Homo sapiens: one gene and its partner. The protein of the gene in region 1 purifies or fractionates together with the protein of each later gene. This does not show direct contact. Each region holds a gene or a part of one and is shown in the gene's direction. Other genes may lie near its edges.

Region 1 (4,784 bases):
AGACTGGGTAATTTATAAGGAAAAAGAGGTTTAATGGACTCACAGTTCCACATGGCTGGGGAGACCTCACAATCATGGCAGAAGGTGAAAGGCACGTCTCACATGGCGGCAGACAAGAAAAGAGAATGAGTGAAGCAAAAGGGGTTTCCTCTTACAAAACCATCAGATCTCGTGATACTACAAGAACAGTATGGGGGAACTGCCCCCATGACTAAAGTTATCTACCGCTGAGTCCCTCCCACAACATGTGGGAATTATGGGAGCTACAATTCAAGATGAGATTTGGGTGGAGACACAGCCAAACCATATCACATAGCAACAAATTTAAATAACTTAAATTTGAAGCATTTTACTACAAATTAATGATAATTGCTTTGTTTGGGATGATTTTGGTCCCTAAGGAATAAACTCTTAATTGTGATCAGTTATTCACTATATATACTAGGAAATGAATTACTCAGAAAACTTCATTTTAAAAATACCTTGTTCTCTTTTAAATGACAAGCAGTATGGTAACAATTTGGAGGTTAATGCCTAGAATGTTAAATAATATGTACAGGTGTCTCTATGTAAACTTAAAATACATTTTTCTCTTGACAGGAAATGCACAATTTTGAGGAAGAGTTAACTTGTCCCATATGTTATAGTATTTTTGAAGATCCTCGTGTACTGCCATGCTCTCATACATTTTGTAGAAATTGTTTGGAAAACATTCTTCAGGCATCTGGTAACTTTTATATATGGAGACCTTTACGAATTCCACTCAAGTGCCCTAATTGCAGAAGTATTACTGAAATTGCTCCAACTGGCATTGAATCTTTACCTGTTAATTTTGCACTAAGGGCTATTATTGAAAAGTACCAGCAAGAAGACCATCCAGATATTGTCACCTGCCCTGAACATTACAGGCAACCATTAAATGTTTACTGTCTATTAGATAAAAAATTAGTTTGTGGTCATTGCCTTACCATAGGTCAACATCATGGTCATCCTATAGATGACCTTCAAAGTGCCTATTTGAAAGAAAAGGACACTCCTCAAAAACTGCTTGAACAGTTGACTGACACACACTGGACAGATCTTACCCATCTTATTGAAAAGCTGAAAGAACAAAAATCTCATTCTGAGAAAATGATCCAAGGCGATAAGGAAGCTGTTCTCCAGTATTTTAAGGAGCTTAATGATACATTAGAACAGAAAAAAAAAAGTTTCCTAACGGCTCTCTGTGATGTTGGCAATCTAATTAATCAAGAATATACTCCACAAATTGAAAGAATGAAGGAAATACGAGAGCAGCAGCTTGAATTAATGGCACTGACAATATCTTTACAAGAAGAGTCTCCACTTAAATTTCTTGAAAAAGTTGATGATGTACGCCAGCATGTACAGATCTTGAAACAAAGACCACTTCCTGAGGTTCAACCCGTTGAAATTTATCCTCGAGTAAGCAAAATATTGAAAGAAGAATGGAGCAGAACAGAAATTGGACAAATTAAGAACGTTCTCATTCCCAAAATGAAAATTTCTCCAAAAAGGATGTCATGTTCCTGGCCTGGTAAGGATGAAAAGGAAGTTGAATTTTTAAAAATTTTAAACATTGTTGTAGTTACATTAATTTCAGTAATACTGATGTCGATACTCTTTTTCAACCAACACATCATAACCTTTTTAAGTGAAATCACTTTAATATGGTTTTCTGAAGCCTCTCTATCTGTTTACCAAAGTTTATCTAACAGTCTGCATAAGGTAAAGAATATACTGTGTCACATTTTCTATTTGTTGAAGGAATTTGTGTGGAAAATAGTTTCCCATTGAAAATGTCAACCTGAATTGTTTAAATGGGCTTATTCTGTACATTGCTAAACAAAAAATGGGGTAGCATGGATAAAGAGCAAACTAAGCTTTATTAGTGCTGCAACTAATATAAACAAATGTTTATATTTGTTGCTTCTTTTGGTTAGCAATGATATGTCAAAGTTATATCTGAAATAGTCAAATCTTTGGGAAACAGAATCTAGTAACAATTTGAAAAGTAATACACTATCCCATTTTTATTGGCTTTATGATGGTTGACATAATGTTGCTGTGACATTTAAACATTCTTGTACCAATATTGTCTTTTACCATTATTATATACTGCAGTTAATTGGCTTTACAGTTCTTTATATATATAGCAAAATCCTGAAAGAACATATACCTTTATTTTGATGTGGCTTGAAGCTTTTGAATGGGTGAATAAGGATGATAGAAAGGTTTCAAAATCAAGCAACAAAGTCTTAAAGTGATAAGGCATGGCTTAAAGATCTTTTGATCAAACATACCTGTGTTTGAGATAGATTTAAGAGCCCTAAATGCTTATCACCATTCACTCCAAATAAAACTATTGCTTTTGGATAACTGTTAGAGTAAAGTGGCTTTTTAAAAGAAATTTTTGAGACTGGGTCTCACCTTGTTGCCCAGGCTGGAGTGTAGTTGTCTGGTCATGACTCACTGCAGTTTCGACCACCCAGGCTCAATCGATCCTCCCGCCTCTGCCTCTGGAGCAGCTGGGACAAGGCACACACCCCCATGCCTGGCTAATTAAAAAAATTGTTTTTTGTAGAAACGAGGTTTTGCCATATTGCCCAGGTTGGTCTCAAACTTCTGGGCTCAAGAGATCTGCCCACCTTGGCCTCCCAAAGTGCTGGGATTACAGACGTTAGCCACACTGTGCCTGGGGGCCAGCATTTTCTAATACTTGTCATATTCTATAGTTTGTGCAAATTTAAGATTGTTTTTTTTTCTGCTCGTCAGTCAAATCAGTTCTTGGATTAAAAACTCATTCTTATTAGAACAGAATCATGTTGGTAACTTGGTCTGCAACAGGTTTTGATGGCATCATGTGGACTTTATTCATCTTAACTCATTTAAATTTTCTACCACATTCCCTTAAGCTAATGCAAAAGTACCAACAACTTAATCTTTTTTTTTTTTTTTTTTTTTTTTTTTTGAGACGGAGTCTTGCTCTGTCGCCCAGGCTGGAGTGCAGTGGCGTGATCTCGGCTCATTGCAAGCCCCGCCTCCCGGGTTCACACCATTCTCCTGCCTCAGCCTCCCGAGTAGCTGGGACTACAGGCATCTGCTACCACGCCCAGCTAATTTTCTGTATTTTTAGTAGAGATGGGGTTTCACTGTGTTAGCCAGGATGGTCTCTATCTCCTGACCTCATGATCCACTCGCCTCAGCCTCCCAAAATGCTGGGATTATAGGCGTGAGCCGCCACGCCCGGCCCAACAACTTAATCTTTTATTAGCTTTGCTTAAGAGGGCCAATTAAATCAAAGCCCTTTAGTTCCCTTTAACAGGGACTGGAGTTATGATGCATGTGTTACGACTTTTGGCCCACTGTCCATGCAACTCTAAGTGCAGGTTGATTTGCTTTCCAGAAATCCCAAAGGGGCTGCTCTTGGATCACCGAAGAGCCTTACCTATATCAAATCAAAAAGACATTCTGGGTCAGATTAGACTATGCTCCTGGCCCTACAGATTGCACATAAACTATCATAAATACAGCTTTTTCAGGGAACTAGTTCTAAAACTCTTACCTGCTGAGAATAAGTCTTAACACTAAGATGACTGTATTATATCAATTTATTATTAGAATCAGACTTATACCTAGCACAATTAACTATTGTGTGGGCAAAGAACATTTAAAGGGCATAGTAGAGGTAAGGAGAGACACATACTCAGCTAGAGATAAAAATACTAAGTTGCACTGATTACTTAAAATACTAGTCACACCATAAAAGTGCCCTGTAGTTTCAAAAACACGTAAGCAATGAAATGTTAGCCATTATGTGTTAAACTACTTAATCTCATTTCTGTGATGTGAATATTTTTAACCCCCTTTTTGTAGATGAGGGAACTGACAAGTGACTTGTCCAAGGCCATATAGCTGTGAGAAAACCCATGCATTCTCTTTTCAGAGTTCATGCTATCACTCAACTTTAAAGTAGGCCAAGATTAATGTTGGTAAGGGTTTGTAATCTGTAAGAATGCTAAAAACGTAAGTATATATATCATTTTAGATTTGACATTTTGTATCTTGCCAGTTTTTAGGAGAACTTTTCATTTTGTTAAGTATGCATGAATATAGTTGAGTATATGAGTAACTGGTTCTTATGCTGCTGTTTTGTATTTTTACCAGCAGGAAGATTGCAAAAGTTGATGTATGTAAATCTTGAAATATTTCTAAGTTTTATGTATAACAAAATATGTATTTTAATAAACTTCTTTTGATATTTTATTTGCACTGTCTTAATGAGACTTCCATACTCAGGAGTGGTAGCTATGGGATTTTCACATGGGTTCTGGGTACTTCTAATTCTTTGAAACTTAGTACTGCAGGCTGGGTGCAGTGGCTCATGCCTATAGTCCAGCACTTTGGGAGGCTGAGGCAGGCAGATCACTTGAGGCCAGGAGTTTGAGACCAGCTTGGCCAACATGGCAAAACCCTGTCTACCAAAAACACAAAAATTAGCTGGGCACTGTGGTGTGCACCTGTAGTCCCAGCTACTCATGTGGCTGAGGCACTTGAATCGCTTGAACCCGTGAGGCAGGGTTGCAGTGAGCCAAGATCTTGCCACAGCACTCCACCCTGGGTGATGCAGTGAGACTTTCAAAAAAAAAAAAAAAATCTGAGCTCTACTGCATTGGTTATTAAAATATAATAAAAGTATTAAATTCTATTTTCGCACCAAATGAAAACACTTGATTATCATTATAGCACTTTAAACTTACTTTTCC
Region 2 (8,615 bases), about 120 Mb from region 1:
GTCCTTTGCTTTGTGGCACTTAGTGAAGACAGGCATACTGGGATCCATTTTGCTTTCAACATCCAACCCCTTTCAGTTGCAATACAGTTGAGAAAGCTAAATGTAATGAGAGTAGAGTAGACTTCTGTGAATTGCTTTAAGTTGTCCTAGAGAATGATTTAGTGTCAATTGAGTTGAGAGAAAGCTGTCACAGAATTGCTCAGTTGCAGGGTAGACCATAAAAGAGGTGATTTGCAGTTGTGTGCTGGAGTTGATTTGTACCAGCAAGCCATTGCTAAATTTTCAGGAATTTTGCCAACGGTTGGCAGCTTGAAATTGGCCATGGTGGGAGTATTTACACCACGGAAATCATCAAATGCTATAAATAAGGTATAAATAAGGGATTTTTCTCTCCCCTCCCTGCTTCAGTTTGTTTGCCAGCTCCCCACTGGGTTTACATTAGACTGTGAATGTAGGTCTTTGCCTTGGAGATAGGAGAGTGGATTTCTCTATCTAATCTTTTTAAAAACTGGCAAGATATGTGCCTTTCTCTCTGCTGCCTTCTCTCCTTCCCAAACCTTTGCCACCTGATATCTTAAAAATCACAAAACTTTTCACTGCCACATCCCAATGGCCTTCTAGTTTTTTTCAGTACTTCTTCTTGGGTCCTTTTTGGTGTTTGTTACTGTAATGATAGCTACTACTTTTTGAAACTCTTATTAGACATTCTAGGTCTTAATGACATTTTGCCTTTTATCTTACCTTACCTGACCAACAATAACTTTTATTAGTTTCTCCTCTTTTTTTTTTTTTTGCATTCTCTAAATGTAGTCATTTTCCAAGATTCTGTCATCATCCTTGTTTTTATTTTTCATCTTGTTTACTCAAACGTGAACTGTCTTGTCTGTGGAGATGACTCAGATCTCATTTTCTTTCTGGAGCCCTCTTCTGTACTCTGGTAATGTTTCTAATTGTCAGATGTTTGTGCCTGATTCCTCAAATTTAACATGTCCAGACCATGATCTTATTTTTACCTTCCTGCTCCTAAACTAAACGATATAAAAAGCTTAGTTCTGGCCGGGCGCCGTGGTTCACGCCTGTAATCCTAGCACTTTGGGGTAACACCGTGAAACCCCGTCTGTATTAAAAATACAAAAAAATTAGCCGGGCAAGGTGGCGGCGCCTGTAGTCCCAGCTACTCGGGAGGCTGAGGCAGGAGAATGGCGTGAACCCAGGAGGCGGAGCTTGCAGTGAGCCGAGATCGTGCCACTGCACTCCAGCCTGGGCGACAGAGCAAGACTCCGTCTCAAAAAAAAAAAAAAAAAAAAAGCTCAGTTCTTCCTCTTGAAACATTATATTGGCTTAATCATTGCCTTGACTAATTGTTAGATTATTAGTTTAATCTCATGGTTCTGTAATTCCCACTCCTGATTGTGAGTTACTAAAAAAAATCATATGGAGAGGTGATTTTATTAAAACTGATTATTCAGTTGAGACCTAGGATTTTTAGTTTTATTCTCTTTATTATCTAGTGAATGAACTTATTTTAGAACTGATGCAAAGAAATGTCACTGACTTGTTAAGTAGAGTACACCTGTGGCTTCTTCAAGTGTGTTTGATAATGAGGTCATATAAGTGACTCTAAAATGGTTTGTTTACTGTGTGAAGGAAGGTAGGAAACAATGGGGAGATACGTGTTACCAGCACATGGCTTGTCTAAAACACTTATACTACCAATCTGAGTCTTTAAAAGTTACAGGTTGGGGGGGGAGGGGCAGTTAAAACAGTATTAATTAATGTGTTAACATATATTAGAGGGCCTGGATTGTCATTGATCTAATAGTGATAATTTGAATCACTTAAGTATCATTTATCCAAAATAAAATGGCATGTTAGTCACTTAAATTGTAGCTGTATGAGACCATATTCTTTTTTTTTTGTTTGTTTTCCAGAGACAGGTTCTTGCTCTGTCACCCAGGCTGGAGTGCAGTGGCACAATCATGGCTCACTGCAGCCTCAACCTCCTGGGCTCAAGCAATCCTGCCACCTCAGCAACTTGCCCCCCAGCCCCTGTATTCCACCCCCCCAAGGTTGCTGGGACTATAGGCATGTGCCAGGCGGCTGGGACTACAGGCATGTGCCAGGCAGCTGGTCTTGACCTCCTGACTGAGCTCAAGCAATCCTCCCACCTCAGCCTCCCAAAGTACGCTTTTTTCTTTTCTTTTTCTCTTTCCCAAGAATAGGATTTAAAAAGTCAATTCCCAAGAAAGGTCTTTATTTACCCAAGTGTTATAATTTCCAATTTGGATGTTTTTAGTCATTGGTTGAGGAAGTATCTCAGATAAATATAAATGTAAATATAAATAAATGTATATATTCATACCTGTAATTCATTTGGATATTTATAATAAAAATCAAAGCCTCATGGTTTCTTTAAATGAGATAGAGAGCTGTGCTTAGGTTTATCAAGAGCAATAAGTTTATGTGATTTTTCTCTCTCAACTACTAGAATAGGAATGGAGGCCATTTTAAACAAAATTTTAATATAATGAAATCCTCTTTACTTATAACCTAATTAGAAATATTAAGTGGCCAAGAGTGTATGGAAACTGGCCAGATTTCTGCATATTTTCTTCAGAATACTTCGAAACCTCTTTCACTGTTTCATAATGTTTATAGATTGTGCAATTCAGGTTTAGTAATACTGTAGATAGACAGATGTGTTAAAGAACAAAACAGAGATTACCAGGAAACTTAAGTGTTGATAGTATGGAGTATAAGTATGACATAATATTTTTTTAGAAGGATTACGTAAAAAGTTAATGGAAAAAGTGGTGTCTATCTCTCACTCAGGATACTTAAAGTCAGATTCTTAGGTAAAATATACTCTATTAATATGTTAAGCACATCTTACTTGGCTTTCCTTAGAATTGTCACCTCTGATGTGATCTTTTATAACTTTTCTTACTCAAAAGTCTGCTCACTAAAAAGATTCTTAGTTTGCACTACAATGGTTGTAAAACAAGAATCCTTTCTTTTTTTGTTTTTGTTTCTGTGATTAGATGCTTTAGGGCTTATATCCTTTGCCTTGCTAATAAGGTAAGTGCCCAACTGATGGGGCTGTGTAGAAAACTTTTTGGCTTGCATTGGTAAGCTTTCCCCATGTCATAGATGCTTACTATTAGAAAGCTATAGTTCCTGTGGTGAATGACTTCTCTTTGTATTACAGTTGACACTTTGGTCACTGTTGAATTTAGGCCTCAGTGATGGATGATAGTGTTTATTGCTTGTCTCCTTAAATAAAATAGAGAAGTTAGGTTTTGCTTTTCTATTTATTTTCCAAAGCTATGAGGAAGAGGCATTGAATCTAGTTTACTGTTTTATAGGTGGGCTGTGTGAATTTAATTTTTGCCTTGAATTTTGTGACCTCAGAAGAATGGCAGAATATCTGACAAGCTTCAGTCCTGTGTCCTTAGTTCCAGTCTTCTATATACTAAACCTAGGAATGCTGAGCAACACTGAATGGCATAGGATACCACTGGGGAGGGGGCAAAGGGTCTCTTTGAAGGTGAGATTAATTTATCCCGAAGACAGGAGGTAGAGTTGGATGGGTAAGTTTTAAAGGGTTGAAGCAATAGAGGTTGCAAGGTAAGGTATGAGACCTTTGAACAAACAGGAATCAACTAAAGGGTGGAAAAGATAAGGCCCTTGCTTTTTACTCATTGGAAATGTTCCTTGAAGCCTATTATGTATATAACACTTAATCCTGTAGAGTGTCTCAAAGAAGCAGAGGATAGTTTCTGTAAAACATTTAATCATCTGGTTAAAGTGAAACTGGACAGAAGCATTATCAGGGCTTAGGGGAAGAGTGCTATCTTTACAATTCCATTAAGAGTAAAAATATCTTGCTATGTTTTGTTAAATATATATTTTTCTGTTAGAAAAAAACCCACTTTAAAAAATCACCTGTTTTGATGAAAATGCTTCTGTGAAAACCTGAAGAGAGTTGGTGCCTCTTCTTATGGTTGAAGATCCCTACTTTTTAATGTAAGCTTACAAACATGAAAACATGTTTTGCCCCTTCTCTGAGTTGAGCTGGTCACTAGAAGGCAAATCCATGGACAGACAGTCCCATTGTTTGAAAGCTGGTTTTGTGGTAAGTGGTAAGTTGGTGGAGGTAGGCATGATTCTTCCATTACAGGCTGGTATGTAACTTTTTAAACACTGGTGCTTTGTACATAGTAGGTATTCAGTGTCTGAATTATTTTTTGAGTGTCGTTTTTTAAAAAAGTATCCTTTTTTAATGCAAAGAATGCATTTGTGTTTTCTTTGCCCCAGTTTGTCTGTGATATCAACTGGAGCAATAGTAGCTTATACTTCATTTCACTGTAATTTTTTTTAATTGACCTCTGATTCTCTCTGGCAAATAATTGTGATATGGTTCGAGGGATGTTTGTTTAAGACAATGGATGAGATTGAGTTGTAAGTAATTTCTTGTTGGTACTAGTTCATATTTTTATGGTTAAATATAGACCTAATGGCTGGTCAAGGACAAAAGAGCTTCACCTTTAACCTCTAAAAATCATGAGTTCTTTTATTTTAATGGCCTGTGTATTAGTCCATTCTCATGCTGCTATAAAGAACTACCTGAGACTGGGTAATTTATAAGAGCTGTGCAAAGCCATAGAGACATGTAATCATATGAAATTTTGAGAGATATGAAGTACTGGAAAAAGTACAATATATGAAAAGAAAAGATGGGATGGAGGTAGGCTGTGGATGGATTGCAAAGTACCTTCTGTGCAGGTCCAGGAAAATATAGACTTATCCTGTAGGTAATGGGCAACCCTTCAGACATTTTAAGGAAGGTAGTCATTTGAGAAAAAAGCACTTTGGAGTGGCTCAGAATCAAACTTACTTACTTACTAGCTGTATACCCTTGGACTTGGTGCTTAACATTTCTGAACTTCAGTTTTTACATCTATGAAATGGGGATAATTTGGACTGAGAATCCCCTGGATTGTGAGTGACTTAATCACTCAGCAAACATTATTGATTGAGTACCTGTTATACGTAATATCCAGATAAATTCTACAGGGAAGGGAAATATAGTAGGATGAACCTACAAAGGTAAGAAAAGCTAGATGTTGGTACACAACCCTTCCAAAACTTAGCACATTTTCCTCTCACACCTATTCTTACTCTTGTGTTGTCTGTCATTATAGTGGTAACCTAAGAGAGACGCCTGGGAATCCTTATTATAACTTCTTTATCTCCAACCAGTTATCAAATCCAACCTGTTTTCCTTTTAAATATTCTTTGACTACATCTTCTTGTCTCTATCCCTGTTGCCAAAGCCTTGGATTGGGCCCTTACCTCTCATCTGGACTCTGCAGTAGTTCACTTTTCCTCTTCTAATTCATTTCTTTTTCATCAGAAAGTTCTCATTTTAAATAATACCAGCCATGCACCGAGCCCTTGCTAACTGTCAAATGACTACTGAAGCTCTGCATTATGTCAGGTTATTACAGTAAGCTTTTGGTTTGTGACTGCCAGGCCAGGAGTTGAGGCTTACCCTCTCTTTTGTTGGCTACAAGCAAAGTATGTCAACTGCAGCCTCCCCATGCCTTTCCTCACTAGCTGCCTCAGATCTGCTTCCTTGTTCTTTGTTGTGCTGTCTTCTGATGGATGCTTTGGTCGTTCTGTTCATCTACTGTTTGCTGAAACCCAAAGCTTTTTTGTACTTCTATTAACAGTTAACCAGTTCACCCTAAGGAGATTGTACGCAGACCAGCCTCCCACATTTGTGTTAGGGGTATGTTACTACTCATATGAGATTTGAAGCCTTCTTTTTCCCCAAAAAATGGTCGATCTCAGATTTTAATAAGGTGCCCCTTTTCTCAACCCCCATAGAGGTACCTTTTATATTCACTGTGAAACTGTCATTCAAATGAATCTACTCCTGGTCTTTAACTTTTTTTGCACTTCTACCCCAATAAGAGGCTGTCTTGCAGTGGGGAGGAATGCATTTTTTGTGTTTTCTTGTTCTTCCCATTTTATCCTCTTTTTGCTTATTTGGAATCTGACTATCCATGAATAAGATGGACTTTGAGATCTACTTGTAAGTACACAGGCTGAAGTTGAATATCTGTATCCCAGTACTTACCACCATGCTTTGTGCATGTTAGGTCACTTTTGTCACACATAGCTTTACCATCACACAGGTAGTAAATTTCCTGTGCTGCCTTTCTTCTGTGCATGTGACAATTGGTAGTTGAGAAGAGCATGAACTCACCTATTTGTTATTTTGTTTTTGGTGCTCTAGGTCAGGATGGCTAACTGGTTGGCTCCCCACATGGTGCCCTACGTCTATATCACACCTTAAAGAAGCTGAAGAGAAGATGTTAAAATGTAAGGCTTTCTTCTTGTAAGTTAAATGAGCTGTGTACTAAGATAGGTCCAATATATCTCATTGCCCTGAAACTGGAGGTAAGATTCTGTGGTGTGTTCATTGTTGGCAAAATAACTTTTTTCCTTTTCCTTGTCATTAGAAAGTACAGAAATGAATGTCGGGGGCTGGCAGGTAGGAGTTCTAAAACTTTTTGGTCTTGGGCCCCTGTTATACTCTTAAATTAGTAAGGACCCCAAGGAGATTTGTTTATGGGCTTATTATCAATATTTATCATTTCTAATACAATTAGAAATTAAAATTGAATAATCAAAAATGTTAATTTATTAATTTCTTTAAAAATAATAGTAAACCCATTACAGATTAAAATAAATAAAATTTGTACCAAAAAAAGAAAAAAAATACTTTCCAAACATTGTTTACATGTTTACAAATGTCTTTAATGTCTAGCTTGACATAAGGTTGCTGCTTCTGCTTTCAGTCTGATGGGTAATCACATATGTGACTTCTGGAAGACTACTTTATACCTATTAGAGAATGAGAGTGAAAAATAGAAAGTCTTAGTATTATGATGAAAATAGTTTTGACTTCCTGGATCTCCTCGAAGAGTCTCAGGGACACCCCCCCTGACTCTGCTTGAGACTATGCTTTGAGAACAGATTCTAGGTGTTTCAGAGCAAGCAGCCTTGTATAGTGGAAGTACTAGACTGGACCCAGGTAACTTGGTCTAGGCCCAGATCTGCCACTAGGTGGTTACAAGATCTTGGACAAGTCACTTTGCTCAGCTTCTCATTTCTTATAAAATGAAGGGGTAGGATTCTTATAAAATGAATGGGTCCATAGAATTCCTTCTAGTTCTAGCATTCTAGGATTCTATATTTATAGTGGTGTGGAAGCCCCTTTTTTTTCCTTCTTATGAGCACTAAAATTTACCCAAACTTGTACCATCAGGGCATTCCAAGGTATCTGTGGGTGTAGTTCTAAGTAGTGGTACTTATTGTGCAATTTTGTTCTGCTGATTCTACTTAAAGGAGTGGATTAGGTAGTACCATTCATATTCATGTGTTATTTTTGTATGTAGGTGCAGATGTTTGTACATGCCTGTTTTTCATTCTCTTTACCACTAATGAATTTGTTTGTGCATTTGAATGATTCAGGAGTAAGTGACCATAACTGGATATATCCTTAGGAAGGGATAATTAGCCATCTTTCATGAATTTTTTTTTTTTTTTGAGATGGAGCCTTGCTCTGTTACCCAAGCTGGAGTGCAGTGGCACAATCTCAGCTCACTGCAACCTCTGCCTCCTGGGTTCAAGCAATTCTCCTGCCTCAGCCTCCCAAGTAGCTGGGATTACAGGCACCTGCCACCATACCCAGCTAATTTTTGTATTTTTAGTAGAGATGGGGTTTCGCCATGTTGACCAGGCTAGTCTTGAACTCCTGACCTCAGGTGATCCACCTGCCTCGGCCTCCCAAAGTGCTGGGATTACAGGCATGAGCTACCACGCCCAGTTATTACATGGATTTTTAACATGATAATGAACTTCTATTCCATATACTTGGGTAAACTTGCTCTCTACAAAACTAAGAAAGATGTCATTGTGATTTACCAAAATAAAAAAATTCTTATCAGGAGGTAAAAAAGGGGTGCTAGATTCTCAATTCATGCATTTAACAGACATAATGATTCCCTTCCTTTTGGTTCTAGGGATGCAAATAGGAATGTGAATTGGTCTCTGCTTTAGTGTCAGACATGAAAGTAAGCTACGGTGGAGTGAGTTCTCTAATAGTTATACAGATGGTTTTTATGGGAATACACAGACGTATGTGTTCAAAATGCTGAAGTGGTTTGGCTTGGCACTTAAGCCAAAGCAGCCCCTTTTCTAAACTAGTGGTATTTCCCCCAACTTGAGGGCTTGTGCTCCATTAATATTCTGAATGAATGTTAGGTTTCTTCTTTGCTGCCACTATGTGGATACAAAACATGATATTATTTCTTTGGTTAAAAGGCAGAAACTCCTGTTTCTTCAGTGTCTTGTTTACTGTATATGAATATGCATAAATAATTAAGGGGTATATCAAAAATGCAGCTGTTCAGTTGATAGTTAAATATAAATGATTTCAAATTTAATTTCATTTTTAGGCAATTTTTGGGAGTGTTTAAAGTATTTAGTTCCACAACATTAAAGGTAAAAAAGAGTTTTGGTCTATAAAATTGTGACTATTT

Evidence for each region. Proteins that work in one complex are often made in the same cells at the same time.
Region 2: the proteins of TRIM59 (region 1) and ABHD5 purify together in Homo sapiens (affinity purification with mass spectrometry; 3 studies listed by BioGRID and IntAct, with this or other methods). This does not show direct contact.

The regions. Positions count from the first base shown.
Region 1 is NC_000003.12:160,435,003-160,439,786, reverse strand, and holds the end of TRIM59 (tripartite motif-containing protein 59), read left to right. Parts: intron 1-600; 5' UTR 601-603; coding exon 604-1,815; 3' UTR 1,816-4,284; downstream 4,285-4,784. UniProt on the Homo sapiens protein: E3 ubiquitin ligase involved in different processes such as development and immune response. Serves as a negative regulator for innate immune signaling pathways by suppressing RLR-induced activation of IRF3/7 and NF-kappa-B via interaction with adapter ECSIT.
Region 2 is NC_000003.12:43,692,972-43,701,586, forward strand, and holds part of ABHD5 (1-acylglycerol-3-phosphate O-acyltransferase ABHD5), read left to right. Parts: intron 1-6,304; coding exon 6,305-6,390; intron 6,391-8,615. UniProt on the Homo sapiens protein: Coenzyme A-dependent lysophosphatidic acid acyltransferase that catalyzes the transfer of an acyl group on a lysophosphatidic acid.